Linked DNA regions of Homo sapiens. The protein of the gene in region 1 interacts with the protein of each later gene in a biochemical or structural test. Each region holds a gene or a part of one and is shown on either strand. Other genes may lie near its edges.

Evidence for each region.
Region 2: the proteins of LRPPRC (region 1) and MAP1S form a complex in vitro, tested with the Homo sapiens proteins (one study listed by BioGRID).
Region 3: the proteins of LRPPRC (region 1) and IPO8 form a complex in vitro, tested with the Homo sapiens proteins (one study listed by BioGRID and IntAct).
Region 4: the proteins of LRPPRC (region 1) and FOXO1 form a complex in vitro, tested with the Homo sapiens proteins (one study listed by BioGRID).

What each region holds. Positions count from the first base shown.
Region 1 is NC_000002.12:43,992,985-44,000,492, reverse strand, and holds the start of LRPPRC (leucine-rich PPR motif-containing protein, mitochondrial precursor), read left to right. Parts: upstream 1-4,503; 5' UTR 4,504-4,545; coding exon 4,546-4,694; coding exon of another isoform or gene 4,695-4,719; intron 4,720-7,508. UniProt on the Homo sapiens protein: May play a role in RNA metabolism in both nuclei and mitochondria. In the nucleus binds to HNRPA1-associated poly(A) mRNAs and is part of nmRNP complexes at late stages of mRNA maturation which are possibly associated with nuclear mRNA export.
Region 2 is NC_000019.10:17,714,646-17,722,488, forward strand, and holds the start of MAP1S (microtubule-associated protein 1S), read left to right. Parts: upstream 1-4,834; 5' UTR 4,835-4,857; coding exon 4,858-4,975; intron 4,976-5,510; exon of another isoform or gene 5,511-5,745; coding exon of another isoform or gene 5,746-5,785; intron 5,786-6,290; coding exon 6,291-6,392; intron 6,393-7,843. UniProt on the Homo sapiens protein: Microtubule-associated protein that mediates aggregation of mitochondria resulting in cell death and genomic destruction (MAGD). Plays a role in anchoring the microtubule organizing center to the centrosomes. Binds to DNA. Plays a role in apoptosis.
Region 3 is NC_000012.12:30,629,868-30,636,885, reverse strand, and holds part of IPO8 (importin-8), read left to right. Parts: intron 1-2,599; coding exon 2,600-2,803; intron 2,804-4,874; coding exon 4,875-4,991; intron 4,992-5,928; coding exon 5,929-6,026; 3' UTR 6,027-7,018. UniProt on the Homo sapiens protein: Involved in nuclear protein import, either by acting as autonomous nuclear transport receptor or as an adapter-like protein in association with the importin-beta subunit KPNB1.
Region 4 is NC_000013.11:40,663,627-40,671,533, forward strand, and holds the start of FOXO1 (forkhead box protein O1), read right to left. Parts: upstream 3,016-7,907; 5' UTR 2,587-3,015; coding exon 1,957-2,586; intron 1-1,956. UniProt on the Homo sapiens protein: Transcription factor that is the main target of insulin signaling and regulates metabolic homeostasis in response to oxidative stress.

The DNA.
Region 1 (7,508 bases):
CAGGTTTTCACCATGTTGACCAAGCTGGTCTCAAACTCCCGAGCTCAAGTGATCCTTCCGCCTCGACCTCCCAGAGTGCTGGGATTATAGGTGTGAGCCACTGTGCCCGGCCTTTTATTCTTTGGGGAAGTATATTAAAGACAATTCCAGGCTGGGCACAGTGACTCAACGCCTGTAATCCCAGCACTTTGGGAGGCCGAGGCGGGTGGATCACGAGGTCAGGAGCTCAAAACCGACCTGGCCAAAATGGTGAAACCTCGTCTCTACTAAAATACAAAAATTGGAAGGAATGGTGGCGGGTGCGTATAATCCCAGCTACTCGGGAGGCTGAGGCAGGGAATTGCTTGGACCCGGGAGGCGGAGGTTGCGGTGAGCAGAGATGGCGCCACTGCACTCCAGCTTGGGCAACAGAGCAAGACTTCGCCTCATTAAAAAAAAAAAAAAAAAGAAAAAAGACAATTCCAGACATCATGTTAATTTACTTCTACATATTCCAGTGCCAACATGCATCTCTAAACATATTTTTTCTTACGTAACCACAAAGCCATTATCATGCCTTAGAAAATTAGCAATAATTGGCTGGGCGCGGTGGCTCATGCCTGTAATCCCAGCAATTTGGGAGGCCAAGGCGGGCAGATCACCTGAGGTCGGGAGTTCGAGACCAGACTGGCCAACATGGTGAAACCCTGTCTCTGCTAAAAATACAAAAATTAGCCAGGCATAGTGGTGCGTGTTTGTAGTTCCGGCTACTTGGGAGGCTGAGGCAGGAGAATTGCTTGAACCTAGGAGGCGTAAGTTGCAGTGAGCTGAGATCACGCCACTGCACTCCAGCCTGGTCGACAGAGTAAGACTCATTCTCAACAAACAAACAAACAACAAATTCTATGGTCAATGTTGCATGCTCATTGTATTGGAACTAACAGTAGCATTGTATGTGATTGATAATTCCTTCCTGGAAGGACTTCTTTCATTCAGGTATTTGTGACCTCACTGGGCTCAGTTCTCCTGCCTCTCTGGCTCTTCTTTCTCAGTTTCCTTTGCTAGATTTTCATCTATACATCCTCTAAAGATTGAAATGACACAAGCCTCAGTCCTTGGACTCCCTCTCTTGTCTATCTGCATTTTCTTCCTAGATGCTTTCATCTATTTCTGTGGCTTCAAATATTAGGTACAAGCTGCAGATTCCCAAATGTATCTTTAGCTCTGACTTTTCCCCTGAACTGACTTGTATGTCATATAGCCAACCCCTATTCAAATTTGACGCTTGGATGTCTAGCAGGCACAAGCTTAATATTCTAGAAGATCATTTTTGATTTCACTTTTTAAATCTGCTTCTCTTTGTTTTCTCCTTTTAAATCAGAGTCATCTCCATCTTTCTAGTTGTTTAGGCCAAAACCTTTGGAGCCGTTCTTGACTTACAATCCACAGCCAATCCATCAGTAAATCCCCTTGGTTCTACTATTTAAATAGAGTAAGAACCTGACCCTTTCTCATCATTTCACCTGCTGCCCTCTAATCCAAGCCACTAGCATCTCTATTCTGGATTAGCCTTCTCTTTGGTCTATTTTTATTTATCCCCATTCCCCTAAAATCTCCTTTCCAAACAGCAGATAGAGTGACCCTTTCAAAATGCAAATGGGTGGCTGGGTGCCGTGGCTCACGCCTATAATCCCGGCACTTAGGGAGGCTGAGGTGGGTAAATCACTTGAGGCCAGGAGTTAGAGACCAGCTTAGCCAAAATGGTGAAACCCCATCTCTACTAAAAATACAAAATTAACTGGGTGTGGTGGTTCATGCGTGTAATCTTAGCTACTTGGGAGGCTAAGGCATGAGAATCGCGTGGACCCGGGGAGGCAGAGGTTGCTGTGAGCCTAGATTGTGCCACTGCACTTAAAAAAAAAAAAAAAAAGCAAAAGGGTGTGGTGGCATGCACCTGTAGTCCCACTTCCTTGGGAGGCCAGGGTAGGAGGATTGCTTGAGCCCAGGAGTTCAAGGCTGTAGTGTGTCATAATTGCACCTGTGAATAGACACTGCACTCTAGCCTGGGCAACACAGCAAGACTCCATCTCTTTAAAAGCAACACACCAAACTATCCAATGGTTTCTCATCTCATTCTAAGTAAAAGTCTTCAGTCTAAATAAAAGTCAGTCTTCACGGCCACCTACAACACCCTGTTTGATATGGCCTCCAACTACCTCTCTGACCTCCAGGCCCCTCTCCACCCCCTGCTCCTTCCTCTACTCCTACCCCCTGCTCTCTACCCCCTGCTCTTTTCTCTCATCCACACAGTCCTCCTCCTTAAAGTTCTCTGAATAGGCTACACCTATTATTGCCTCTGGGTTTTGGTGTTTGCTGTTCTCTAAGCCTTAACCACTCTTTTTTTTTTTCTCCTTCCAGAAAATTCTCCTGGCTTCCTCCTTTCCTTCCTTCAGGTTTCTGTTCAACGTTTTTCCTATTTAAAATATCAACTCTCCGGGCGTCGTGGCTCATGTCTGTAATCCCAGCACTTTGGGAGACGAGGCAGGCAGATTGCTTGAGGCCATGAGTTTGAGACCAGCCTGGGCAACACGGCAAAAACCCGTATCTACTAAAAATACAAAAATTAGCCAGGGCTTGGGCCTGTAATCCCGGCTACTCAGGAGGCTGAGGTGGGAGGATCGCTTGAGCCCAGACGTCGAGGCTGCAGTGAGCCAAGATCGTGCCATTGCTCTCCAGCCTGGGTGACAGAGCAAGACCCTGTCTTGAGAAAAAAAAAAAAAAAGCAACTCCCCCCATGACACCCTCAATCCCTTTACCCTGGCGTATTTTGCATCACAGTTCTTTTTGTCTTCCCAAATTAAACTTTAAAGAGCTTAATTAGAATCTAGGGTTGGTTTGTTTTGTTCTCTGCTGTATTCCTAGGATTTCAAATAGTGTATGGCACTGGATATGTATTCAATAAATACGTGTTGAATAGGTGAATAACTTGTATTCCCAGTGCTCAGTAATATAACCCAGAGTCAATCAATTCACCTTGTTTCTTTTGGGGGCTTGGAGCGGGTGTCTTCGTTCCCTCATCTCTCAAAGGAGAGGTGAGCTAGGTCATCTCAAAATAGACATTAATTTAACACATATTTAATGAGACCTACTGTGTGTCTGGCACTGGGTAGGTGTATGGCCTACAATAAGAGATCACAGTCCCTACTGATAAGGAGTTCGTGGGATTAACTGATAAGGAGTCCAGTGGGATAAACAGTCACTTCGGAAATGACCGTGGGAGGGCTTCCAGAGGAAATACCCGCCGCGTTTGCCTCGTGATAGGTAGGGGACAGGCAGGTGTAGAGGGAGTGGAAGGCTGTTCTCAGCTTCCCACGTGTGCACAGGGAACCGATCCAGTCTGTAAGCCCTGTGAAGGCAGCGACGTGGTTTTTTTGTTTTGTTTTAGACAGAGTCTCGCTGTGTCACCCAGGCTGGAGTGCAATGGCGCCATCTTGGCTCACTGCAACCTCCACCTCTCGGGTTCAAGCAATTCTCCTGCCTCAGCCTCCCGAGTAGCTGAGATTACAGGCGCCCGCCACCACGCCCGGCTAATTTTTTGTATTTTTAGTACAGATGGGGTTTCACCATGTTGGCCAGGCTGGTCTCCAACTCCTGACCTCAGGTGATCCACCCGCCTCGGCCTTCCAAAGTGATGGGATTACAGGCGTGAGCCACTTCGCCAGCGATGGGTTTAACTTGCCAGTTTTCTCCCCATATTTGGCTGGAGACTCTTAATTACATTGTTCTTTTACTTCTCACATGTATATGTGCATTTACTGAAGGGAGAGGCGCGGTAGGGGTGGAGGGTTGGGGAAGAGAGTCAGTTCAATTCCAGCTTTAAAACTATAGGATTTTTGGTAGAATTCATTTATTTTCTAAAGCGAGGCCCCGCGTACGCGCTTAGGGTGGGGACCTGCGCGTTCCTTTACACTGTTCCCAGGCCCTGATAATCCACATCCTATCATGTTGAACCTGGGAGGCAAACGGCAAGGTGCAAAAGACCTCCACGGTTTCTCCGGCCCGCGTTTCTGAGAGTGAAGGGCCGTTCCTATTGGACATGGCGTCAGGGCTGAACGTTAGCAGCAACATCTGCACTCGGGGGCGGGGGAAACCTTCCCACGTCCTGGGATCTTCATAGTCGGCTCTCCTCGAGAGTTCTCGGTATTTTTACTAGTTGGCCTCCCACAAGCCTCTGCGCCAACCTGGGAGGAGTTGACCTCTTGCGGCTCTACCAACAGAGGAGTGCAGGGGTGCAGCGAATGAACACGATGCCCAGATCGGAGACGGAAGACGGAAAAGAAAAGCTTCGATAATGAATCAAGCAACATCGTTTATGTAAATATTACATTGGGTCTTCTGTCCTCGGAGAAGTGCGGTTTTCCATCTTCCAACCTAAAACAATCCGTCGCTCCCCCCACATTTGGCACGCCCGGCAGTTGGTCTCTGCCGCGCCAGGCTACCCTGCGGTCACATGCTCCTCCTGTCCTTCTGGCGGAGCGTGCTTCCCGCTGCGGGGACGTTCGAGCAATGGCAGCCCTGCTGAGATCCGCGCGTTGGTTGCTGCGTGCCGGGGCGGCCCCGCGCCTCCCGCTCTCCCTGCGCCTCCTCCCTGGCGGCCCGGGCCGGCTGCATGCCGCCTCCTATCTGCCCGCCGCTCGCGCCGGGCCCGTGGCCGGGTGAGTGCCCAGGCCCTTTCTCCAGGCAAGCTGCGGCGCCAGGGTCCCCCGGGGTCGTGGGTGCCGGCAGGGACCGGGTCCTGCCTGTGCTCGCCACCCTTCTCCCCGCCCCAGGACCTAGCCTCCCCGGGCTCCGCACCACGCTCCCTACCAGGGGTTTTCGGGTGACAGGGTTAAGCGCCTTCAGAAGGTCACGGCTGTGGGCATGGCCTGCCTCCGGCTTGAATCCTGCCCCCGCCACTTCAGCCTGGACCTTACTGCCCTCGGGGTACCCATGGTCAACGAAGATGAGGGGGGCTTTGAAGACTGCTTTGGGAAGTCGGGTGGTGGTCTTTTCCTTACACTTGGCCAGCTTGGGTGGTGTCCCACGTGCGGTCACCGTTGGTGATCAGTAACCACCTAGCATTTAGATATTGGAAATTTAGCTTTTTGCGAGGGATGGGGCGGCGAGGAGTGGGTTGGGAGTTTGGGTGAGCCACGGATGACTTAAAGCTGGACGCTGGATTATGATCACTTTGGGCTTTTGCCTGCGTTCTCTTGAATGGAGTTTTCCTTCAGCATTTAAGAAGGTGTTGCGCGAGTTGGGCTGGAGTGCAGTGGCGCGATCTCAGCTCACTGCAACTTCCGCTTCCCGGGTTCAAGCGATTCTCCTGCCTCAGCCTCCCGAGTAGCTGGGATTACAGGTGTGCGCCACCATGCCAGGCTAACTTTTGTACTTTTAGTAGAGACTGGGTTTCACCATGTTGGCCACGCTAGTCTCGAACTCCTGACTTCAAGCGATCCTCCTGCCTCGGCCTCCCAAAGTGCTGGGATTACAGGTGTGAGCCACCGCTCCCGTCCTGTAAGTGTCTTTGAATGAATGAGCACATGCAAGGCACTCTGTTGGAATCTGGGGATGCAAAGGCAAGTTAAACTCTAAGTGGGTGTCAGATAGGCGAATAAATGCTCTCATGGTTTGAGGTTTATCAGAGATAGGTTTGGTATAGACTTTTGTAGTGGAGGGGAAAAGAAAAGTTGGTGAAAGTGTTCATTTGGTTATTAATAGTATTCTGACCACCAGAGAAGGGGAGATAGGTGCTGAGCTTTTAGCATTGGAGAAAAAATGATTTTGAAAGACTGATGCTTGTAAATTAAGGTACTTTGAGAGCTCGCGTAAGGACTGAGAGCCAGGGATCTGCAGTAGGCTGGGCCCAGACTGCAGCCTACTCCAGATTTATCTGCATTTTATCCTCAAATTATCTGCATTATGCCATTAGAGAAGTTACTTAACATCTCCAGGCCTCAGCTTCCTTAGCTATAAGGTGGGAGTAGTAGTAGTGTTAGGAATATTGCAGAATTATCTGTATTAAGCACTTAGTATAGGGCCTGATGCCTAGTAAGTGCTTTGTTGGTTACTACAGGAGTCATAATATCTACGGTTATGCGGACCTTCATGGACCAGCCTGAACACCTAATCTCGCCATAAAATTACGTGGAGGAAATAATTTATGATTTCTTAACAACTTAGTTATAATCTTTGGAATGGAGCGTACTTGTAATTTGGAGTCTGCCTATATTTTCTTATTGGGCTTGAACAGTTAACTTTCCGAAATCATGCCTCTGAGCACAGAACTATATACATCTCTTGGCTTTCAGAGTTTCTTTTGAGAAAGTTGTGCCCATTACTCTTATTTTTCTAATCCTCAGCATTTCTGTGAGGCCAGGGGAAGGTCCACATTTTCTTTTATCTTCACTGTTGCATTTGAGGAGAACTGAATAAAGAGAGAACATAGTTTAGTAGAAAGGGTGGTCTCGGTGTTCATCAGACCTGGGTTCTGTTTACTTACTGCGTAATCTCAGCCATCTTACTAACCTGTCTGTTCCTCAGTTTCATTATCTGTAAAGGCCTTTCCCCCTTATCTTTGTAAAGTTGCTTTCTTATCATTCAGATCTCAAATGTCTCTTCAGGGAAGCCTTACCTCAACACTCAATCCAAAACATGCCGGTCCCACTGTAGATTTATTCGTGGCACACCTCACTTGTCTGATATCATTACTTATTTCTCTGGTTTTTTTTTTTTTCTTTAGTAGAAGGTAAGCTATATGAGAGCAGGACTTTGTCTTGTTCACCACTGTGTGTTCAGGTGACAGCAGGCAATAAAGAAGTGATTGTTCCCTCTTTTTCCTGGACTCTGAGCACTGTATATAGTCTCCTACCCGACATCCTGTAAGCATGCCCAGATCTTGCCCACGTGAAACACAGAACCTTTCCTGGAACTCTGTTTACTCTAGAAGTTTCTCAGTCTCTTCCCTGTCCATACTTCTCTGTCCCTTTAATTTCATCACTTTTCATTCACTTTCCTATCCACTGCAGTCACACCGCTGTCAAAGGCCATTATTATCTTATTGATTTTTTTATTGTATTTTTGAAAAATTATTTCAAAAGTGCCTTGAAGAACAGTTGCAAAAATTATTCCTTAAGGTGCCTCGAGGGACAGTTGCAAAACCTGGGTGGTGGGAACAATAAACTAAAAATCACCCTTAATTATGTCAACCAGAGAGCCATTCATTGATAGCTGTCCTTCTAATGACTTATGTATGTGTAAGATGTATGTTTATTTAACTTTTTGAAAGGACCTCTTTTAATTACCAAATCCACTTTTTAGGCCTTGACCTGGCATATTACTCTGTCTTCCATTTTCCCCTTCATGAGACACTTTTCTTGGTATTGATGACACCATTTTTCTAGGTTCTCTTCTCTTTAGGATTTGTCTCATTTGCTTGATTCCTCTTGCTTCTGTTCACCTATTAAATGCTGATGTTCTTGGTAGTTTTA
Region 2 (7,843 bases), on another chromosome or scaffold:
AATAGGGAGTTACTGCTGTTGAGGATAGCATTTATTTTCTTTTTTTTTTTTCAATTTTTATTTAAAAAATTATAGGCTAGGCACAGTGGCTCACACCTGTAATCCCAGCACTTTGGGAGGCTGAGGTGGGTGGATCACCTGAGATCAGGAGTTCAAGACCAGCCTGGCCAACATGGCGAAACCCTGTCTCTACTAAAAATAAAAAAAATAGCCAGGCGTGGTGGTGCATGTCTGTAATCCCAGCTACTCAGGAGGCTGAGGCAGGAGAATTGCTTGCACCTGGGAGGCAGAGGTTACAGTGAGCTGAGATGGTGCCACTGCACTGCAGCCTGGGTGACAAAGCAAGACTCCTTCTCAAAAAAAAAAAAAAAAAAAATTCCGAATAGAGCGATAGGGTTTCCTTATGCTGTCCAGCCTGGTCTTGAATTCCTGGGCTCAATGGATCTTCCTGCCTCTGCCTCCCAAAGTGCTGGGATTACAGGCATGAGCCACCATGCCCGCCCTAGGACAGAGTTTCTTTTTAAGAGGATGAAAGTATTCCGGAACTAGATATTAGCGAGGGTGGCAGGACGTTGTAAATGCACTAAATGTCACTGATTTGTACACTGTAAAATGGTTAAAATGGAGGCCGGGTGCAGTGGCTCATGCCTGTAATCCCAGCACTTTGGGAGTCTGAGGCAGGTGGATCACCTGAGCTCAGGAGTTTGAGACCAGCCTGGGCAATACGGCAAAATCCCATCTCTACAAAACATACAAAAATTAGCCAGCAGAGGTGGCCTGCACCTGTTGTCCCAGCTAGTCAGGAGGCTGAGGTGGGAGGACTGCTTGAGCCCTGGAGGCAGAGGTTGTAGTGAGCTGAGATTGTGCCACTGCACTCCAGCCTGGGTAACCTGACCCTGTAATCCCAGCACTTTGGGAGGTCAAGGTGGATCTCTTAAGCCTAGGAGTTTGAGAGCATCCTGGGCAACAAGGAGATGCCATCTCTACAAAATATACAAAACATTAGCCAGGCATGGCGGCGCACACCCGTAGTCCCAGATACTTGGGAGGCTGAGGTGGGAGGATCTCTTGAGCCCTGAAGGTCAAGGTTGCAGTGAGCTGAGATCAAGCCAGTGCACCTCAGCCTGGGTGATAGAATGAGACCCTGTCTTAAAAAAAAAAAAAAAAAAAAAGGCCGGGCACGGTGGCTCATGCCTGTAATCCCAGCACTTTGGGAGGCCAAGGCTGGCCTGACACCGGGAGTTCAAGACCAGCCTGGCCAACATGGTGAAATCCCGTCTCTACTAAAAACACAAAACTTCCTGGGCATGGTGGCAGGTGCCTGTAATCTCAGCTACTTGGGAGGTTGGAGCAGGATAATCACTTGAACCTGGGAGGCAGAGGTTGTAGTGAGTCGAGATCACACCACTGTAGATAGAGAGAGAGAGAGAGAGAGAGAGACTCATTCTGTCAAGCAGGCTGGGTTGGAGTGCAGTGGCGTGATCTCAGCTCGCTGCAATCTCCACAGCCCAGACTCAAGTGATCCTCCCACCTCAGCCTCCTGAATAGCCCACAACCACACCTGGCTAATTTTTGTATTTTTAGTAGAGACGGAGTTTCACCATGTTGGCCGGGCTGGTCTCAAACTCCTGACCTCAAGTGATCCGCCTGTCTCAGCCTCCCAAAATATTGGGATTACAGGTGTGAGCTACTACACCCAGCCTGACCATGTCTATATTAAACCTCAACAAAACTGTTAAAATAAGAAAATAATTGCCAGGAGAAGATGAGAATATCCAGCAGTCCTGAGGGCTCAGGGTTCCGTTTTCCCCACAAATGCCATCATCTGACGCCTCTGGGGATGGTGACCTTGAAACAGTCATGGAGCTGGGCCAGAAACCAGAGACCAGAGTCCCATGCCTGGGATTTGAGCAGTGGTCTCAGAGGCTTCTCAGTTTCTAGGGAAATGCACCCCACATGTCCCACACCAGAGTCCTCAAGCTTGGGAAATGCTTTGGGACAGGAAGACCTCATGGCTCCAAGTACTCAGGACATTATCTCCCAAAAACCTAATGGGGGAGACCTTCATCCCCAAATCAGATCCCCCTAGTGGAGACATTTCTTCAGGCCCTGTAAGACCAACTAGTAATAGAATTAATACCAACAGGCCGGTGCAGTGGCCCATACCTATAATCTCAGCACTTTGGGAGGCCAAGTGGGGCAGATTACTTGAAGTCAGGAGTTCGAGACCATCCTGGCCAACATGGTGAAACCCCATGTCTCTACTAAAAATACAAAAATTAGCCAGGCATGGTGGTGGGTACCGTAATCCCAGCTACTCAGGAGGCTGAGGCAGGAGAATCCCTTGAACCCGGGAGGCGGAGCTTGCAGTGAGCCGAGGTTACACCACTGTGCTCCAACCTAGCCTGCTTGACAGAACAAGACTCTCTCTCTCTCTCTCAGAATGATTCTGGCAAGGGCGACAGAGTGAGAATCCGTCTCAAAAAAAAAAAAAAGAAAGAAAAAAAAGAATTAGTACCAACAATCATAATTCACAGCGTGGGCAGAAGGAAGTGGATAGACTTCCATTCAGAAGCTCCTGGGTTCGAATCCTGGACCCATCCATAAATACACAAGGAAGGAAGGAAGGAAGGAATAGTGGACAAATAGGCCTTTCAGCCCATTCCAAAAGACTTTATCATATCCCTTCTCAGATGCCCAAGCCTTGTGTTGCACAAGGCCAGGGCCCCAGAGAGGCCTCAGGCTTCCAAAAGTTTCCAGCCTTATAGGGGAGATAGTGCCCGACACAGACACTCCCACTACTATTACTGCTCACAGCAATAACAGAAGAAATCACAGGCAGGCGAGACACAGGGAAGGGAGCCAAGGGGGAGGGACAAGGATAGAGGAAGGATGCCAGAACCAAAAAGAGAGAGAGGAAGTGGAGTGCAAGAATGGTAGACGGCACGTGGCCAGTGGCTGTTACACACTGGCCAGGGAGGAAGTTGGGCTGAACAACCTAGATAATAAACGGCAGCGGGAGGCTGATTCGCCTTCCCAGATCTTTCCCATTTCTGTTCTGCTTTTCTTTGCATACTCCCGGAGACAGGGAGCTCACTCCTGAGAAAGGAGGTTCAATGTTTCCTGGGCATGGACCACTGTCCAGAAGTTCCAAGCAAGATGATTTGTCAAGTAGTAGCCCCTATGGGTCAAAGGGCTAAAGGGGGCCAGGCGCGGCGGCTCACGCCTGTAATCCCAGCACTTTGGGAGGCCAAGGCAGGAGGATCACTTGAGGTCAGGAGTTCGAGACCAGCCTGGCCAACATGGTGAAACCCCATCTCTGCCGGGCACGGTGGCTCACGCCTGTAATCCCAGCACTTTGGGAGGCCGAGGCAGGCAGATCACGAGGTCAGGAGATCGAGACCACGGTGAAACCCCGTCTCTACTGAAAATACAAAAAATTAGCTGGGCACAGTGGCGGGCGCCTGTAGTCCCAGCTACTCGGGAGGCTGAGGCAGGAGAATGGCATGAACCTGGGAGGTGGAGCTTGCAGTGAGCCGAGATCGCGCCACTACCCTTCAGCCTGGGCGACAGAGCGAGACTCTGTCTCTAAAAGAAAAGAAAAGAAAAGAAAAGAAAAGAAAAGAAAAGAAAAGAAAAGAAAAGAAACCTCATCTCTACTAAAATACAAAAATTAGCAGGGCATGGTGGCGGACACCTATAATCCCGCTACTTGGGAGGCTGAGGCAAGGGAATCGCTTGAACCCGGGAGGCAGAGGTTGCAGTGAGCTGAGATTGTGCCATTGCACTCCAGCCTGGGCGGCAGAATGAGACTCCATCTCAAGAAAAGGAAAGGAGAGGAGAGGAGAGGGGAGAGGAGGGGAGGGGAGGGGAGGGAGAGGAAGGGAGGGGAGGGGAGGAGAGGAGAGGAGAGGGGAGAGAAGGGGAGGGGAGGGGAGAAGAGGAGAGGAGGGGAGGGGAGGAGAGGAGAAGAGAGGGGAGGAAAGGAAAGAAAAGCCTAAAGAGGATTATCTGGGGAGAGAGAGGTACCCATGTGCGCAACGCAGGCAGTCCCTTGCACAGGCTGGATCTAGAGTAAGACCCACTTGGGTTCAAACCTGCTCTACCACTTACAGGCCTGGTGACTTCATCCCTCCAAATCTCAGTTTCCTCTTCTTTCCTCTGAAAGTGACCACAGTAACTGTGCCTACTCATCTGTGCCTACATACAAGCACAAAACTCATCGCTTTGTGCTTGTATGTAATGAGCTAATGCAATAAAATACCTGGCGCACAGGAGGTGCAGAATAAGTGTTGCCCTGTTCCAGGCAGGCCCAGAGTGCTCCGGTTGTGTCCCAAACACACATGTACTTTCTTACCTCTAAAACTTTGCACCTGCTGTAAACTTCTGCCTCACCAGCTCTTGCCCCACCACCCACAAGGCAAACTCCTACACATCCCTTAAAGCCCTACCTACAAGATAGATTTCTTTTCTCTGTTCAAGCCCTGACCTAGAGAGCTGGGAGCATCCATAGGCACCGGGTTCTGATGCGGCCTACTGTCATGTGATGTGAGTTCCTGGAGGGCAGGAGTTCTGACCTACATGCAGCAGGCACGCAATCAAAGCTTGTTCAATGAAAAAAAAAATGAATGAATGGTCACTTGGGAGAGGCGGCTCCCAAGCGGACACCCAGGAGTCGGCCAACCCCTTTAACGCCCGCATCCCCTGCTCTCCACGACCTCAAAGGGCCTGTAAGTGGTCGACAAAAAGGGGCGGGGATGCGGTGGTTCCGGGCGGGGTCTTCAGCCCTTCCGGTGCGGCCCCTTTAAGAGGCGGGGCCTGCGGGGCGGGCGCCGAGAACGCCGGGGCGGCCCGAAGATGGCGGCGGTGGCTGGATCTGGGGCTGCCGCGGCTCCGAGCTCACTGCTCCTCGTGGTGGGCAGCGAGTTCGGGAGCCCGGGGCTCCTCACCTACGTCCTGGAGGAGCTCGAAAGAGGTCGGGCTGGCCTGGGGGCCCGCGGGAGCCCGGGAGGCGGGCCCGTTCGCGCGTCTGGGCCCGGGGCCGGCGGGGTGGGGCGGCGGCGGCGGCGGCGGCGGGACCCGGGCTCCGGGGCGGGGGTCGCGGGCCTGGGGCTGGGTCCCCTTCACCGTTAGGCGCACGACGCGGGCAAAGGCGGGGTGCCCGTGGGTGCCCGCGGAGAAAGTGGCATCCGGGCCTGGGCTGGGCAGGGCTGCCCCGCCCCAACTCCGGGTGAAGATAGGGGAGGGGACACGGGCCTGGGCTTGGGGACCCTTGCAGTTGGACCACGGCTCCGCTTCCCGCCTGACTGGCCTGCCCGGGGGTAGGGCCTGGGGTCGCTTTGGATCTCCAGGTCTTAGCAGCTTAGATAGAGATCTCCCGGAGGGAGAAGCAGATATGGGGGAGGCTGGGCCTGGAGCCCCGGGGCCCGCTTTCTGTTGCCTCACAAGGAGCTGCTAATTGGGGTGTGGGCGGGTGCGGCCTGCCCTGGGGATTTGGCACCTAGGGAGGTGAGTCATAGGCGCACCTGCCAGGTTCACCTGCAGCCACTTGGCTCAGTGGGACTGGCGGGCGTGATGCGCCCGTGGGTGGAGATGGGTGTTCATCCCCCATCCCTCGGAGCATCTGGACCTGGCGTTTCATTGCATGTAAAATGGGACAGGAACACGCACCTCGGTTCATGTGCTTGAGGAGTGTTTAGTGAGCACCTGCTATGCGCCAGGCCTTTGGGCAGTGGACACAGGGATATGGCCGGGATGATAGACAGGTTCAGCCCTGCCAACACAGGTCTGGTTTGGGGATGGACCCAAAGCGAGTGAGGAGATGGAACAAGCTTCCAGCTCACATGGTGTCAGGAAGGATGAGAAGGCTGCAAGGGACTGAGAGGACAGTCAGTCTTAGCACCCGAAGGTGCTGAGGGGGAAGGGCCCCCTGGCCAGTAGGAACAGGTGGGGGCGGCAGGGGGATGGACTTCCAGGCAGGGGAAACAGCTGTTGCAAGGGCGGTGAGTGGAAACGGGTCTGGCAGGGCATAGGAGCAGCGAGGAGGTGGAGATGGAGGAGGTGGAGGCTTTGTTGCTGATGAATCTTGTGTGTAAAATGATGAGGTGTGCTCTGGGTCCCCTGGCTCAGCTGCAGCGAGACCTGAAGGTGTTGGGTACTTCTGAGTCTCCAAGCTGTGAGTGAAGGGAGGAGGCTGGGGCGCTCCCCACCCACGGGGTGCTAATTATTGAAATATTCTGGGAGCTGGGGGGCCCGGCTGAACTCCCGCCTTGATCCCTCCTTCCCACCAGGCATCCGGTCTTGGGATGTCGATCCTGGCGTCTGCAACCTTGATGAACAGCTCAAGGTCTTTGTGTCCCGACACTCTGCCACCTTCTCCAGCATTGTGAAAGGTGAGGCTGGGGTCCCCCTGACTGCTCCCTACCTCTTGTTATTTGGGGAAGTGCCAGCCGTGTGCCAGGCATGGGGGGTGGGATGCAGCTATAAATAACAACAGTAATAATACAGTTGAGACCTTTCAAATGCAAGCCGTGACCCAGTGATAACCCCCTCAGTCCTCAGCAACCCACAGTGCAGGAACTGGTGTTTTTGTCCCTGATTGACAGATGAGGAAATTGGCATTGAAGGGGGAAGAGGCAGGGAGATCTCTGAGGAGGGGGTTTTTTGATGAGAAACTGCTATGACTGGTGTGTCCAGTGGAAGGGAAGGGCCCCAGTCAAGACCCAGCAGTGGACAGAACATCTAGAATGAACCGGGCGCGGTGGCTTACGCCTCTGATCTCAGCACTTTGGGAGGCCGCAGCGGGCGGATCACTTGAGGTCAGGAGTTGGAGACTAGCCTGGCCAACGTGGAGGAACCCTGTCTCTACTAAGAATACAAAAATAACGGCATGGTGGCAGGCGCCTCTAATCCCAGCTACTCGGGAGGCTGAGGTGGGAGGATCACATGAACCCAGGAGGCAGAGGTTACAGTGGGGCTGAGACTGCGCCACTGCACTCCTGCCTGAGTGACAGAGTGGGAGGGACTCTGTCTCAGAACAAACAAACAAACAAAAAACATCTGGAAGGTGGAGGGGCACTGAGCAGGCCCTGGAAGATGGAGTGTGGGCCCCTTGCAGGAAGGGACTGATACTGGTTCACAGCCACAGGCCTGGGTATACAGTAGGCAGGGAACTGAAAAGGAGTGAGATCAAGAAGGGCCCAACTCAGCACGAGGCTCCCTTCTAGGGTGACCCAGGGTGAGCAGAGCAGCAGGCGGGCAGGCAGGGCTTGGGTGTTGCCTGCAGCCGCCCCCGGCTCCTGATGGTCTCTTGAGTCACCTCCCGGCTGCTGCTGGAGAGGAAGGAAGTGTCTGTAGTCTCATTGTCCCAGTTGGTCCTTGTGGCTTCCTGACACTTCATGGGGCAGAAAGTGGAGCTGGAAATCCTGTCTGCTGTGTGTGAACTTCGTGGCCACTTCCCTTCTTTATGCCTTGATTTCCCCACCTGAATGGGGCAATATCCCTGTGTGGCAAAAAGCGTGCTAAGGCTGGGTGGGGTGGCTCTCGCCTGTAATCCCAACACTTTGGGAGGTCAAAGTGGGAGGATTTTTTGAGGTCAGGAGTTCAAAACCAGCTGGGGCAACATGGTGAAACCCTGTCCCTACTGAAAATGCAAAAATGAGCTGGACCTGGTGGTGCACACCTGTAGTCCCAGCTACTCAGGAGCCCGAGGAGGGAGGATCGCTTTTACCCAGGAGGCAGAGGCTGCAGTGAGCTAAGATTGTGCCACTGCACTTCAGCCTGGGCAACAGAGCGAGACCCTGTCTCAAAAAAATAAACTTAGGCCTGACATGGTGGCTCACAC
Region 3 (7,018 bases), on another chromosome or scaffold:
TACATTCTTCGGCCTGCTACACATATAACAAATATTTTGGGCTTGGTTGACTTGCTATTAATTGTATCATGCTATATAAATTTAGATTTATGCACCTTCTGACACCTAATATACTCAGCGGTTTTTTTTATGGAGCCTAATAGATGCTGTTACACATTAGGAAACACATTTATAACAATCAAATGGTCTTGACTGTAAGTTAGCAATCTAGTATCTAACTTTCTTGTTTGTGCTAACAGCCTCATCAAGGCAGTAGCCATGAGTTAAATGAATCATTACATTAAGAGCTGAAGTGTTAGTACCACAGATTAGTAGAGAGTGTCTTTTTTTTCTTTTTCTGGAATGGTTCTTAGGTGACTCATTAGCAAAAATTACATTTGAGAGACGTCCATATTTGTGATTTAAATATAAATTAAGGTAAAGTACATAAATGAAGTGGATATACTTGAGAATCAGAATAAGATTGTTAGAGTTGAATATTAGACCTTTGTTTTGTTTAATGATGAGATTGCGGAGCTACTTGCTAGAGACTAGGAAGTAGCATTCTCCTATTCCAGGTGGATTTTTTCCTCTCCTGGTTAAAAACAGATACTTTGTTAGCTGAGAAAAATCAGAACTCTTCCTGGTAAACATACAGCTCTATTTTTGATGCTAAATTCTGTGATTTTAGCATGGATAGATTTAAAACACTTTTAACTGGCATCATCCCAGTTTGTTCATATACCAGAGATTATAAACTACCCTTTTTCTCCCCTCCACAGCACAAAATACAGCTTCTAATTTGTTTTTCTGAAATCTGTGTAGGTCTTTTGAAGAAATGCTTCTTTATTAGAAGTGTTGCATGTGTGATTTTTGTTTTGTTTTGTTTTGTTTTTAGCTAACTGTGTGTCAACAGTTGTAGAATTCTTTTATTTTTTCCAGTATGTTATGATCTCTAATTTCTTGTTTTGGCAACTCTTTATTGGCTTATACTGTATGGCTTGAGGGAAAATTTTCTGGTAATATCCCACACTTTCTTGTACTTCCTACTAAAGTATGGAATGATTAACTAGTGGAGGTATTTCTCAGTCTTTTTGTATTAATAGTTATAATTTGCCATGCATTTTTTCGTGTATTTGGTCCAAACTCTGGTTAAGTGCCTTATTCCTAAAACTACCTAGTTCAATCTACCTGCTTCAATATGGTGTGTCTAATAGAACTAGTTTTAGGTTAATATTACCTGGTTTGGGTTTACTCCAGGATTTCTCTCTTATCTTGATTTTTGTTCTGCATTTACTGCCTTCCTGTTCCAGTATTTCAGTTACAATCTAACTGCTAGGAACAGATTGACACTGAAAATAGATACAGAATCCATGGTGATACATAATGTAGTTCAAGTTTTTAACTTTTCAAGCGACATGTAGCTATTTTTCTTTACATTTTTGCTATTTCTTTTTATTATAAATTAGCAAATTATATATTTATGGAGTACAAAGTGATGTTATGATTTGTGAATATAATGCGGAATGATTAAATCAAACTAATATATCCATCACCTTAAATACCCTTTTTAATGGTGGGAACATTTGAAATTTACAATCTTGCCAATTTTGAAATGTACATATACTATTAACTGTATTCACCATGCTGTACAATAGATACCAAAACAAAACAAAACAAAACAAAAACCTAATTCTTCCTGAGACTTTGTACCCTTTTACCAACATTCCCATATTCCCACCACCTCTAGCCTCTGGTAACCACCATTCTATTCTCTACTTCTATGAGTTTGATTGTTTTAGATTCTATGTATAAGTGAGAACAGGCAGTATGTGTCTTTCTGTGCCTGGCTTATTTCACTTATCATAATGTCCAAGTTCATCAGTGTTGTTGGAATTGACAGAATTACCTTTTTAAAAGCTGAATAGTGTTTCATTTTAAAGAATCCACATTTTCTTTATTCATCCGTTGTTGATGGACACTTAGGTTGATTCTGTAACTTGGCTATTGTGAATAATGCTGCGATGAACACAGGGCTGCTGACATCTGTTCTACGTATTGATTTAAAATATTTTAGATATATATCCTGAAGTGGGATGGCTGGATCTGTATTTTTACTGTTTCTACTAGCAGAAATGATCTCATTTGGGCATTTCTAAGCACTTTATAATCAACTCAGTTAATTAAGAGGACTGAATTCTCAATAGGAAGTCATTGTTTAAAACACATGCACTGACCGTACAGTCACTTTTTTTTTAAACAAAGGTAATTTTGAAATCTGCAATTGAATAATATTCTTGTATTAATGAACTTGCATAGCCTAACAGTAGTAATGTTCATCTGGATAACAGGTTTAGGGAACTTGTTTTCAGTGAGGAGGATAAGGACATTCTCAACTTAGCAAACTCTACAGTAAAGATAAGGTTTATTTATTTTATTTTTTATTTTTATTTTTTGACTCTCCTCTTTAGACCAGGGATAAGATTTATTTTTATTAAAATTTTGTGGAAGATTTTTTCCTTTCCAGAGTGTAGTTTTATAGTCTTTGGTTTTTGTCGTGAAGTTTTATATTTTGTCCTTATGTGTTTTGATTCCTTTTAAATAATTAATGGGTTCACAGAGGAGATTTCAAGTGATGAAGAGGAGACAAATGTAACTGCTCAAGCAATGCAGTCAAATAATGGAAGAGGTGAAGATGAGGAGGAGGAAGATGATGACTGGGATGAAGAAGTATTGGAAGAAACCGCGCTTGAGGGGTTCAGTACTCCACTTGACCTTGACAATAGTGTGGATGAATATCAGTTTTTTACACAAGCTCTGATAAGTATGTCTTTACTTCCCCACATCTTCTGATATTTTTTTTTCTAAACTCTTTCTTCATTTCTTCCTGTTTTGATATTTGCCCAAGATTGGTCTAGGTTCTTTTAAAAATTTTTTTGTTTATTCCTTATGATAGAAATCCCCAAACATACATACATGAAATGATAGAAATTAAAATAATGAAACACCTATCACCCAATCCTAGCAGCTTTCATCATTGAGAAGTAGCAGGGTGAGCCTGTATGTTATCCTTGCAAAAGTAATATGTGGAGTATCTGTGTATATTGTTCATCCTTTAGGCATAAATGGGCAAGCATTTTTATAGCAAAGAATGAAGTGTTTCAGGCATACATTGCTTAAAAATTGTGGCTAACAACCTACTAGTTATTCACAATCCCTAGAATGAAATTGCTGCCGTAAGAGGGTGACTTTTTACTTTGTAAGTAATTTGCCAATTTTATACAACAAAGAACAGTATAATTACAGTTACAGGACTCATAAATGATTCGGGGGGAGAAAATATTTGCCACATATGCATAATAGGCATAATGTACACAGTGTACAGAGGCCATCCTCAGATACATAAGACCAGTAACCTAGTAGAAAATGGAAATGGAAAATTTACAGAATAAAAACAAGCCAATGAGGATATTTAGAAAATTATTAATCAAATAAATTATTTTAAATCTCATTAATATAGATTATTTGTTTTATGGTTAGATAGTATTTCCATAGTTACATTGTAATTTAGTTCCACTGTGGGACATTTAAGATTGTTTCCAATGTTTTTACCATTATGAGGGTTATTAAAATGAACATCCTTACATGTAAATGTTTTTACTAATAAGGCAATATTAGCTTAATATATTGGCATTTTTTAGTGTTGCTACAAATAACATTAATGAAGAAAAAACTACCTAGATGTTCTTATTGAAATTCAGAGGAATTGGAGGCAGAGAACACAGGAAACTATATTCCAAAGCATGGGAAACGTAACAGCATAAACGTGGAGATGGAAATATGGAGGATGTGGCCTAGTGTAGTTCCAGACATGGGTGTGTCATAATCACCAAGGAGGCTTTTAGGTCTTGAGTAGGATCTCAGGAGATGTATTTTTAAAGATGCTTCTCAAGTGACAAGCAACTTTAAACCAGCATGTAGGGGCCACTGCTTAAAGACTGTGAAGGAACGCAGTTGGGCTGGGCTATAGTGGCCTTGAATTCTGGACTGAGGTGGTCCATCCCATTGCCCATTGGAATAGCGTTGAAAGTTGTGTTCTGAGGCGGTGACCTTTTAGATGTGGTAATTCACTTCAGGGGAGTTACCCGGTGATGGATGATGTGCAGAAAAAACTGGAAAGGACTAGATGTGGGAGCCAAGTGTTAGAGGTTCACTTTATTAATTTAGATGTATAGAGACCTGGAATGGGGAGGGTGACATTTGATGGAAAGCAGCATACAGATGAAAGACATTAAGAAAGAAGCAGAGCTTTGGGTGTGGAGAGGGCATGCTCAGGGATGTTAAGGATGCACAGTAGTGGACTGGGAGACTAATAGAACTGGTGAGATAAATGGAGAGATAGAAGGTTTGGGAGGAAATTGTTAAATTTGGTTTTAGTTGTGTTGAGTTTGAGATGAGCTATTCAAATGGAACAGTCCAGGAGGCTTAGGGGAAGGTTTTTCCTAGAGGTACAGATTTGAATCCTTGGGGTGGTAGCAATACTAAAGCTGCAGGTAGTATGAAAATTCCAGAGGAAAATGGTAACAAGTGAGTACTGGTGTTCTGGATTTTAGAGAACATCCATAGAAGACAGCAAAGGAGACAGAGAACTAGGCAGACTAGAGATTTGCAATGTCCTAACCTTCCTTTGATTTCCCACATAGCTGGGTACTAAGTGGGTACTCAGAAATAATCCTTTGTTGGCGTAAGTTTCATTACCTTGTGTGTGTTGTAGTACTGTACTCTTTGTCTCTTACTGTCTGGGATAATTTCTTTGTAATTTGATCATGTTACTACTTGTTCTGTAAATTAATAGTCGCTGTACCCTCCTGTCTTTTCCTCCCAAAATGCAACAGCTGTGCAGAGTCGAGATGCAGCCTGGTACCAGCTGCTGATGGCACCACTCAGCGAGGATCAGAGGACAGCACTGCAGGAGGTGTACACACTGGCAGAGCACCGACGGACGGTGGCAGGTCAGCCAGAGTAACCTCCAGAGTGGAGTGCATGTGTCAGAGTGCCAACAGACAGCCTTATTTGATGAGCCAGGTGGCACCTAAACACTGTTTTTGAAATTGTTAGAGACTTACCCTTTAAGATAATAAGGAATTGTCATTATTGTATGATTGTTTTAATCACTCATGATGTCTTAGCTTTGCAAAAACCTGCACATTAATATGTATTTCCTAGTGGTGTTCTCATTCACATTCTTATCCTATGTTGGAGGCAAAGGTACAAAGTAAGGGTTGGGATAAGTCTTGCCGAGGGAGACTTAATCAGTTGGATCACTCCCCTAAACATTTCAACCGTGGGCCAAAGGGACTTGACGAATTCTTGCAAGGAGCTTGTATTCCTGGAAATGGAATGCTCTCTATTTCTCATTGTTGGGCTTTATTTGACATTGTTTCTTGTTGTTGATTTTCAGTTTTTAAGCTGGAGGAATTACTCTGTGTTGATTATTGTAGTTACTTGTAGATTGTCATTGGAAAAGATTTTGTAGTTACAAAAAAATTTTAGTAGGAAACATGGCAAACTAGACATCTAGAGTTTAGAATGCTGGCTCTTCTGCATGGACTTAGATTTTCAGTTCTGTGCAGATTCTCAGTCAGCCTTCCTGATATGAGAAGTCTGGGCCCCCTTTCAGCAGTAGAGACAGTGAAGTAGAATCCACCTCTGAGACGTGTTTTCTTTTCACTCGTTTTTTGCAGATTTTCCGATGGTAGTGAACATACCACCTTATTGACATAGGTCTGTTATTCTTAGTTATTCTTTGGCAGGATAACTAATACTACCAGTCACATTCTTTCACAGTTCTAAGCATATAAAGAATCTGGCTCCTTTGAGTCATCTCCAACTTTGTCACCTTAAGCATTCTTTTTTTTTCTTCTCCCCTTTTCTTTTGAAAAATGCTAGAGGCAAAGAAGAAGATTGAACAACAGGGAGGCTTCACCTTTGAAAACAAAGGAGTCCTCTCCGCATTTAATTTTGGGACTGTGCCCAGCAACAACTGAAGGAAAGAACATCAGCTGACCAAATGTCATCGCTGCATTTTATTTCACAAGAGGAGTGTGAGGGTCAAGGGGATGAAATGAGGGGCTGCTTTTAGGGCCCTCCTGCTGTGCCAGTTACCATCTGGCATTAGGCAGCACTTTTATCTACTCTTTCCCCTTTGACCTTTGTCACCCTGAAATATATATTTTAAACAGCTACTGTAAGTATGAAATGAAAGAAAAACAATCATTGGACGGAAAAGGACAACCCATATGTTCCAAAGGCTGAATGCCCAAGGTTGTTTTAGAGGATTGGATAGACTTGCACGTCTCAGGTTTTTGCCATGCAGAATCAATGGATTTATGCGGATAACAGTGCCTTCTGTTGTACATGAATTATCAGAAAAAAATTTTTGGAGTGCATTGCAATTTTTTTTAAAGCATAAAACATATTTCTAGATACAACATAAACCTTGGTTATATGTCAACTATTCTGCATTTTACTCTGTGAATTTATTGTTAGGCAGTTACTGCAAGTCACTCTGGTTTCAAAATCTTCACGGCTCCCTCTGCTCACCCTGCTGCTGGGGGGCTTTTTTCAGGGGTTGTATTATAAAATATGCACTGGCTGTGGTTTTTCATAAGATGTTTTGTGGCTTTTTAAAGAAGTGTCTTACTCCCTCTTCTCTCATTTTTTTCTGCCTTGAAAAGGGGTGGTATTTCTTTTGGGGTCAACAAATACACATATCAGTTTCACTCCTAACCTTGTAAGTTCAGGACTCATTTTCTTGGCAGCAAGTGGCAGGGGCTCTTTAGTCACTGGAGTTAACAGTAAGTCTGAGTATATTCTGAATAATGTAATTATGCAATTAATTGATAATCATACCTAAAGCACATTGAACTTCTAAGAGACAGGTGCTACGTAAGCACACTGTCTTTCTGGATGGGGACTTGTATTTTAAATAACTTATCATTCCAGCTATGTTGGACTAGGGTCCAAAGCATTTTATAAT
Region 4 (7,907 bases), on another chromosome or scaffold:
ATTTGGCAGACAATTTCGATTTTGTGACTTAATAGAATATATGCTGAACTTAACGGTAAGAAGGCACTTTACTTTTTTGAAACACTTGGTAAAATTGCATGTAATGCCTGGTAATGAAGCGATAAGTGATACCTTTACTCTAAAACACACTTTGGAAAAAATAAAATGAATCTTGAATTCCTTCTAAAGGAACTTCAATAAGGTGTGAGTAACTTAACCCTTTTGACACGCATTAACCACAGGGATGACACTGTGTGTAAAATAACCTTGGTGTTAACAACTGCGCAGCAAAGACCAATCTTTATTATGCCGTGGAGTCCAATATGAGAGGCGAAGAAAGGTATGTTTTAAAAAGGTGTTTAGCTCGGCCGGGAACGGTGGCTCACGCCTGTAATCCCAGCACTTTGGGAGGCCGAGGCGGGCCGATCACGAGGTCAGGAGATCCAGAACATCCTGGCCAACATGGTGAAACCCGGTCTCTACTAAAAACACAAAAATTAGCTCGACGTGGTGGCTCGTGCCTGTAATCCCAGCTACTCGGGAGGCTGAGACAGGAGAATCGCTTGAACCAGAGAGTCGGAGGTTGCAGTGAGCCGAGATCGCGCCACGGTACTCCAGCCTGGCGACAGAGCGAGACTCCGTCTCGGAGGAGGGGAGGGAGGTGTTTAGCTCAACTAGACAGCCTTTACAGCAATTCCGCCACCGGTGACAGTGAGAAACTGTCAGCTTGGGGAGGCCGCGCCACGACTGGACCCCGCCCCCGGGAAGCCTCCCCGGAGCCGAGGGCCCCCGGGCCTTCTCCTCGGAGTCGGGAAGTGCCTGCCCCCACGCTAAGTCTCTCCTGGCCACGCTCTGAAAGGCAAAAATGGCAAAAATCCTCCTTCAAGGCACCGCTCCCTCGACGCGCACCGCCACTCCGACTCCCTCAAAACATTGGTCGCAAAGCCCCCCCGCCTGGTCCTCCATGCTCAAGAATAGGGTGGCAAGGCAGGAAAAGACTCACACATCCCAGCCCCCGGCCCCTCAGGGCAGCCTCTGTGTTTCTAACTAAAAGCCTCCTACCAGGGGCAAGACCAAGTTCGGGCGCTTCCCCGCATGGAGAAACGCTGGCCCCACGGCGCCCGGCCCCGACGCGCTGGCCCTTTAAAGGCGCGGGCTTCCTGCGCCCGGGGCCCCTCCCACGCCACCGCCACCGCCACCGCCACCGCCCGCGCCCGCCCCCGCCGAGGGTCACACTTGAACTTTAGCTCGCCCCGCGCGGCCAGGCGCCGGCGCTCCGCAGGCGGTGGCCGCCCCTTCGCACGTGTCGGAGGCACCACCTCGGGCTCGGGACGCCGGGCCCCCGGCACTCGAGGCCACTCCGGAGAAAACCAAAACAAAGCAAAATGCGCACCGCCTCCAGAAACTGCCCGGCAGGCCCTGCACCGTCCCCGGCCGGTCGCGCCCTGCCTGTCCCCTCCACCTGCAGCCCGGTCCCGGGGCAGCGAGGCTCCGGGGCCCCTCGCCGCGCCCTCCCCCGCCGCGCCCGGCGGAAACAGCTCCGCGGCGCGGCCGGAGAGAACCCGCCCTCCCCCCGCGGAGGTCCGGGAGGGAAGGGGCAGCCGAAGCAGTCGGCGCGGGCCGGGGGTTGCCGCTCCCAGCGAACCCCTTTCTCCTTTCACTGGCAAACTTTTCGGCCTCGCTCTGACGTCCACTTCTTGGCGCACTTTCTTTACTTAGTTCCCCAACGAGCCCCTTACCGCGTCCCACGCGAACTCCTGACTGGCGCGCACGCACACCTACTGCCGTCCCCGACCGGACCCGGGCGAGGCCACCGCGACCACCGCTTCTCGCCCGCCCTCCTGGGAACGCGCTGCCCTCCTGCTCCGCACCTTCAGGCCGAGCAAACCTGCACAGCTGCGCCCTCGCCTGACCCACCGCGCCCCCAAGGTCCGGCCGCGCGCCGAGTCCACTCACCTTCCAGCCCGCCGAGCTGTTGCTGTCACCCTTATCCTTGAAGTAGGGCACGCTCTTGACCATCCACTCGTAGATCTGCGACAGCGTGAGCCGCTTCTCCGCCGAGCTCTCGATGGCCTTGGTGATGAGGTCGGCGTAGGACAGGTTGCCCCACGCGTTGCGGCGGGACGAGCTGCTCTTGCGCGGCTGCCCCGCGAGCGGCCCAGCGGCGGCGGGGGGCACCGGCGGGTGCTGCGACAGCGGCCCGGGCGGCGGGGGCTGCGGTGGCGCTGGGTGCAGGCAGCCCGCCTCCGGGCCCTGGAAGTCCCCGCACAGCCCCCCGGTGGCGGCCGCGGCGGCCGCCGCCGCCACCGCCGCCGCCACGGAGCCGGGCGCCTGCGGGAAGTCCTCGCTCTCCTCCAGCAAGCTCAGGTTGCTCATGAAGTCGGCGCTGACAGCGGCAGCCGAGGCCGAGGGCAGGCCCGCCGCGGCGTCGGGGTTGGCAGCCGCGCTGCCCGACGGCGCCGGGCTGGAGGTGGCCGAGTTGGACTGGCTAAACTCCGGCCTGGGCAGCGGCCAGGTGCACGAGCGCGGCCGGGGCAGCGGCTCGAAGTCCGGGTCGATCTCCACCACCTGAGGCGCCTCGGCCATGGTGACCCCCGCCCCTCCCCCAGCCGCAGGAGAGCCAAGAGGGGGAGAACGCAGCACTGGGGGCGGACGGGGAGGGGGCGCGAAGGGACGGTCCGAGATTTGGGGGAACGAAGCCGGTGCGGCGAGCGGACGGAAACTGGGAGGAAGGCGCGGCGGAGTGGAAGCGCGAGCCCAGAACTTAACTTCGCGGGGCCATCCACATCGAGGCTCCTCGGGGTCCGCCGCACGGACTGGACGGCCGGCCAGAGCCGCCGGGCCGGGGCAGAGCCTGCGCCGCGCTCCAGCTGACAGGGCCGCGGACGGAAGGACGGACGGACGCCGCGGGCCGCTTGCTCTCCCCAGCGGCGCGCCCGCTGCGCTGCTGCCTGTTGAATGTGGCGGCTGCGGCAGCGGCTGCTGCGACTACCAGGCCGCCCGACTTACGGGATCTGCCGCCGCCCCCCGCCCGCGGCGGCGCGCGCGCCGGCCCGCCCCTGACCGACAGCCCGCGCGGCCAATGGGCATGCGGCACCGCCGCCCGGGCAGCCAGTGGGCGCCGGGCTGGGTGGGGCCCGGTTTTCCACGGGGAGGCGGCGGTGGGCTGGTGGGGGGTAGTGGGGTGTTTTTCTCTTTCACACACTCACCTCCTTTTTTTTTTTTTGGATCTCTATTATTTTCTGGTAATTCTCGAGTGTTTCTGTGATTCTCTCGCCTTCTCAGTGTTTTGATTGCTAGGAAGCAAACCAGCGTGGAGGCGCCGGCGACACTTTGTTTACTACGGAGCAGCAGAGCCGAGTACTCGGGAAGCCCGGGTGGGAGGAGGCGCTCGCTGCTCCCTGACCTCCGCTGCGGGCCGAGCCCGGCGGGCTGGCAGGGCAGGGGGCCGAGGGCCGGGGGCGCGGGGTGGGCGGGCGGAGGCGGCCGCGAGGAATTCTACTCAATCGCTCCCTCCTGGCTCCACCCACGATGTCTTTGCTGAACGACGTGGGGAATCGGTGGGTTTTGTTTTGGTTTAATGTTTTCTTTCGCTGCGATCTGTCAAGTCCTCCGGCCCCCTCGCGAGCGGCACACGCCCCCCACCCCCGGCGCCGCGGCTCCTGCAGTCGAGTCCGCGCCGAGGGACCCTTCTCCGTGCCCACCGGTCCGCACCCCCGGGCTCAGCCTGTGCCATTCGGTCTAGCCAGAGGCGCGTCACCCAGCCGGCAGCCCCCAGCCGGATTCACTGTATTCTTGACCTTTTTTAAAATGCTAGAAATGAGGAACAGGGGCTCCGGCGCGGGGAGGAGATTATCTGGCCTCCCTGAACACACGAATCCAAAGGCACCCGCGACCGCATGCCCTCCGTGGGAACCTCTTCCCCTGGGCGGGAATCTCCCGCTCCGTCCACTAAGTCCAGGGCCGGCAGCGAAGGGCTCAGGAGCGCAGTTAGAGAGAACCAGGTCATTTTATTACTTATCCCTAATTAAATTTAGCTGTTTGTTACTTCTTTTTTATTTGCAACGGAAGTGATCGGGTGTTAAGTAAAAACGCAAGGGGGGCGGGAGATAGGACCAAAGCCTTGGGGCGCAGCCTGCCCCACCCCCAAATTCCTTGAGGCTACTTGCTGTGTGTGTCAGTCAACCCCCCACCCACACCCCACCTTTCCTCATCTGGGCTGCAGGTCCAGGACATCCTGTCAAGGATCAGTGGGGCCAAAGGTGGGAAGATAATGGCCCTTGTGTCTCAAGCAGAAGAAACAGTTTTCCAGTTTTGTTTTGTTATGCTTTTGCTTTTTTAGGAAGAATATGGAAGGCATTTCCTTTTAGAAAGATGGGACCACTTAGGATGGAAGATGGACAGTAGGGTTTTAAATATCTTGTCCAAAAGGACAGCTTCCAACTCTTGTTTTTTAATCCCTTTCTTTCTTACAAGTAATTCTGCAATGGAAAAAGTGGCATCTAGAGAAAATTAGTCAGTTGGACAAGAGGTTGTTGAAAAAATAAAAGAGAAAAGAGGGGAAAAAAGGAAAAATTAGGCCTCTTACAAAAGTTAAAAAGATTGAGAGAGATTATCTTTCTTCTTTTATATTCTCACTATCGTCTCTCTAGTCCGGGCTCCTGTTTCTTCATAATCTATTTATCACAACAGCTTCTTGCTGATACTAGGCATGGGTGGGGTGGGGAGCGTGAGCCGGATGGATTGGGGACGGGCGGGGACTGGTTCCCACCCTGGTCTTGTGGTCTCTTCACGTTTACTATCAAATTTGGACAGTCTGGGCCTCCTCTGACAGCCGCTAGGGGACCTCAGTAACTCAGATGATGAGCTCAAAGGCAGGCCCCCAAAGTACAGCTGTTGCTTCCCCCCACCTTTCCAATTACACTCTGCAGAAGCAGCCCCCGATCCAGACAGCCGCACCCTAAAAATAGGCGGTGCCCTACTGGATCATTCTTGGCAAAGGAAGCCAGCTTCAAATTTGGCCTTGCCTTCATTTCTATTCCGGTTTTTCAGGGCGTCAGAGAATATTTATTTGGTTAAAGGAGTCTTCCTACAGACTTTCCCCAAATCCTTGAAATCTTTGAGGCTCTCCTGCCCAATTGTTTCTTCAAATGTCATAGTTTACTTTTATTTGGTCTTTCTTTAAAAAAATTGACGAGGCAGGCACAGAGAACCTATAACACCAATGTCCCTGACACATAGGTCCAAAAAATTAAAAATATATATTGAAGGGTTTTTACAGCTAACCACCACACTGTTGTATCTAAATATCAATTTACTGAACCCCAGGATGTTGGTGAATATTTCACTTGTTTCCAGTCTTTAGCTATCATAGACTATTCTGTAAGAAATAACCTTGCAGGGAGGCCGAGGCGGGCGGATCATGAGGTCAGGAGATAGAGACCATCCTGGCTAACACGGTGAAACCCGTCTCTACTAAAAATACAAAAAATTAGCCGGGCGTGGTGGCGGTCGCCTGTAGTCCCAGCTACTCAGGAGGCTGAGGCAGGAGAATGGCGTGAACCCGGGAAGCGGAGCCAAGATCGCCCCACTGCACTCCAGCCTGAGCAACAGAGCGAGACTCCGTCTCAAAAGAAAAAAAAAAAAGAAATAACCTTGCATAACTTTAATTTCATATCTGTACAAGTATATATATAGGAGCAATTTCCAGAAATGGGAGTCACTGGGTCAGCAGGTATACCCATTCGTAGTTTTGAAAGGCACAGCCAAATTGTGCTCCACAAGGGTTATATCAAGCTAAACTGTCTTTTCCATTAGACCCACAGAACGTTAAACTTGAAAGTAAACTCGGAGATCACCTTGGTGACCCCCTTTAACTTAGAAAAAGAGAGGTGCAGAGATGCTGATTTGCCCCAGCGCACATAATAAAAGTGGTGATGCCAGGGCTGTAGCTCTAATTTTTTGCTTTCCCATTAGTAACCTTCTCAAAACACAGATGGAAAATTATAAATATCCTGTAATCCCACTATAGCAATAACCATTATAACTTCGTAGTGTATTTCCTTCCAGTCAACCCGCAGATCTTAGTAATCATAGTTAGGTGAACTCCACTGAACCAAATAAAGGTTTGAATTAAAAGAACAAATAGGCCGGGCACAGTGGCTCATGCCTGTAACTCCAACAGCTTGGGAGGCCGAGGCAGGTGGATCACCTGGGGTCAGGAGTTCCAGACCAGCCTGGCCAACATGGTGAAACCCCATCTCTACTAAAAATACAAAAATTAGCTGGGCGTGGTAGCAGGTGCCTGTAATCCCAGCTACTCAGGAGGCTGAGGCAGAAGAATCCCTTGTACCCCGGAGGTGGAGGTTTCAGTGAGTCGAGATCACACCACTGCTCCAGCCTAGGCGACAGAATGAGACTGTATCTCAAAAAAATTTAAAAATTAAAAAAAAATAAAATAAAATAAAAGATCAAGAAAACAGACATAAAACAATGATAGTGGTAATAAGATAATGAAAGAAGAGATTACAAAAGAAGTTTTTCTGTTTTTTTTTTTTGTTTTTTTTTTAGTCAAAAATGTAAATGTTGCCATCTCTGAAGGGTGACATAGTATTTAGGTCATCCCTGGTTCTGCTTAAGGGAAAAAGTTCTTTTCTCCTTCCTTGTGTTTTGTGGTTGCAGCTTGCTTTGAAGGTATTTTCTACTGATTATCACTTAGTTGCTGCATGTGTCTGAACTGGGAAGAAATAGGGAAGAAAAATGTCTCATGTCAAGTAAGGACAATTAAAATGAAAAAGGAAATTTATCCTTACAAAGTCCATCTCACAAAACTATGTGATGTTCTTTTCTGTGCCTGGTTTTCAGGGTAACTATTGCCTCATCCTTAACAGGAAGACTGAGGGATGGTTCCCTTTGATCAATGCCCAGGCAGAAATTTCTACATTTACCCCTCACCAACACATGATAGATCTCGGGTTTAAATTTAAATTTTTACTTGTCAAAATAGATAATTTAAGTTCCATTTAATGAGTAAGTGAAAAACTTGGATGCTGATTTTTCAGTCAGGGCACTTCACTTCGTATTTCACATTCCCTTTCCCCAACAACTGTCCGTTTCCAAAACTTTGTCTGAATTATTAGGAGGTACTGCTGTCAACCTGAAACAGCCTTTCTTCACTTAGCCCATAGAAAGTAATAATCTGAAAAAAATATATATAGCCTCAGGTCTTTAAACCAATGTCCTGAAGGCTGGCATATTAACTGGTAGCTGTAGTAAGATTAGAAGTAACCATTCGTTTCTCTTAAGGGATAATTTCCTTGGGGTTTTGTCACTAATTCCACAAATATCTACAGAGCACCTCCTACATATATGTCAGGTGCTGTGCATCTTAGAGTCCATTGTTTTGATGCTAAATTCCTTGAGCTCCAAAATGGTTTATTTTCCCTGATACGATATTTGCTATCAGAGTTAAGAACGCTGTTCTTTTCTAATCAGCAATGCATAGTGACAATATTTATTTGGAGGAATTACACAAAAATGTTTTTGATAGGTAAAAGAAATGCTAAGGCTGGAAAAATTGAAATATAGTCACCATTTTGGAGGAAAATAATGATATGAAGTGGAAAAGATTTAAAAATGCACCATCCACAGGCACTGGGAGTATGAGTTCCGACCACTAAGCCTCATGGTTGGGATGATCTTATTACAAATGGACAAAAGACGGAGACTACCTCTGGTTATCTGTCTACTAACCTGTAACAGAAGGGAAGCAGTGAACCACTTCTTTTGTCAATTCTGTTGTGAAGGGCCAGTGTTTGTCAACTTCAATAAACTATTCCTTCACTTTAGGTATTAGTGAGAGACTACTTGTGGGTCTCTGCAGGAATACTAACACATATTTGTAGATA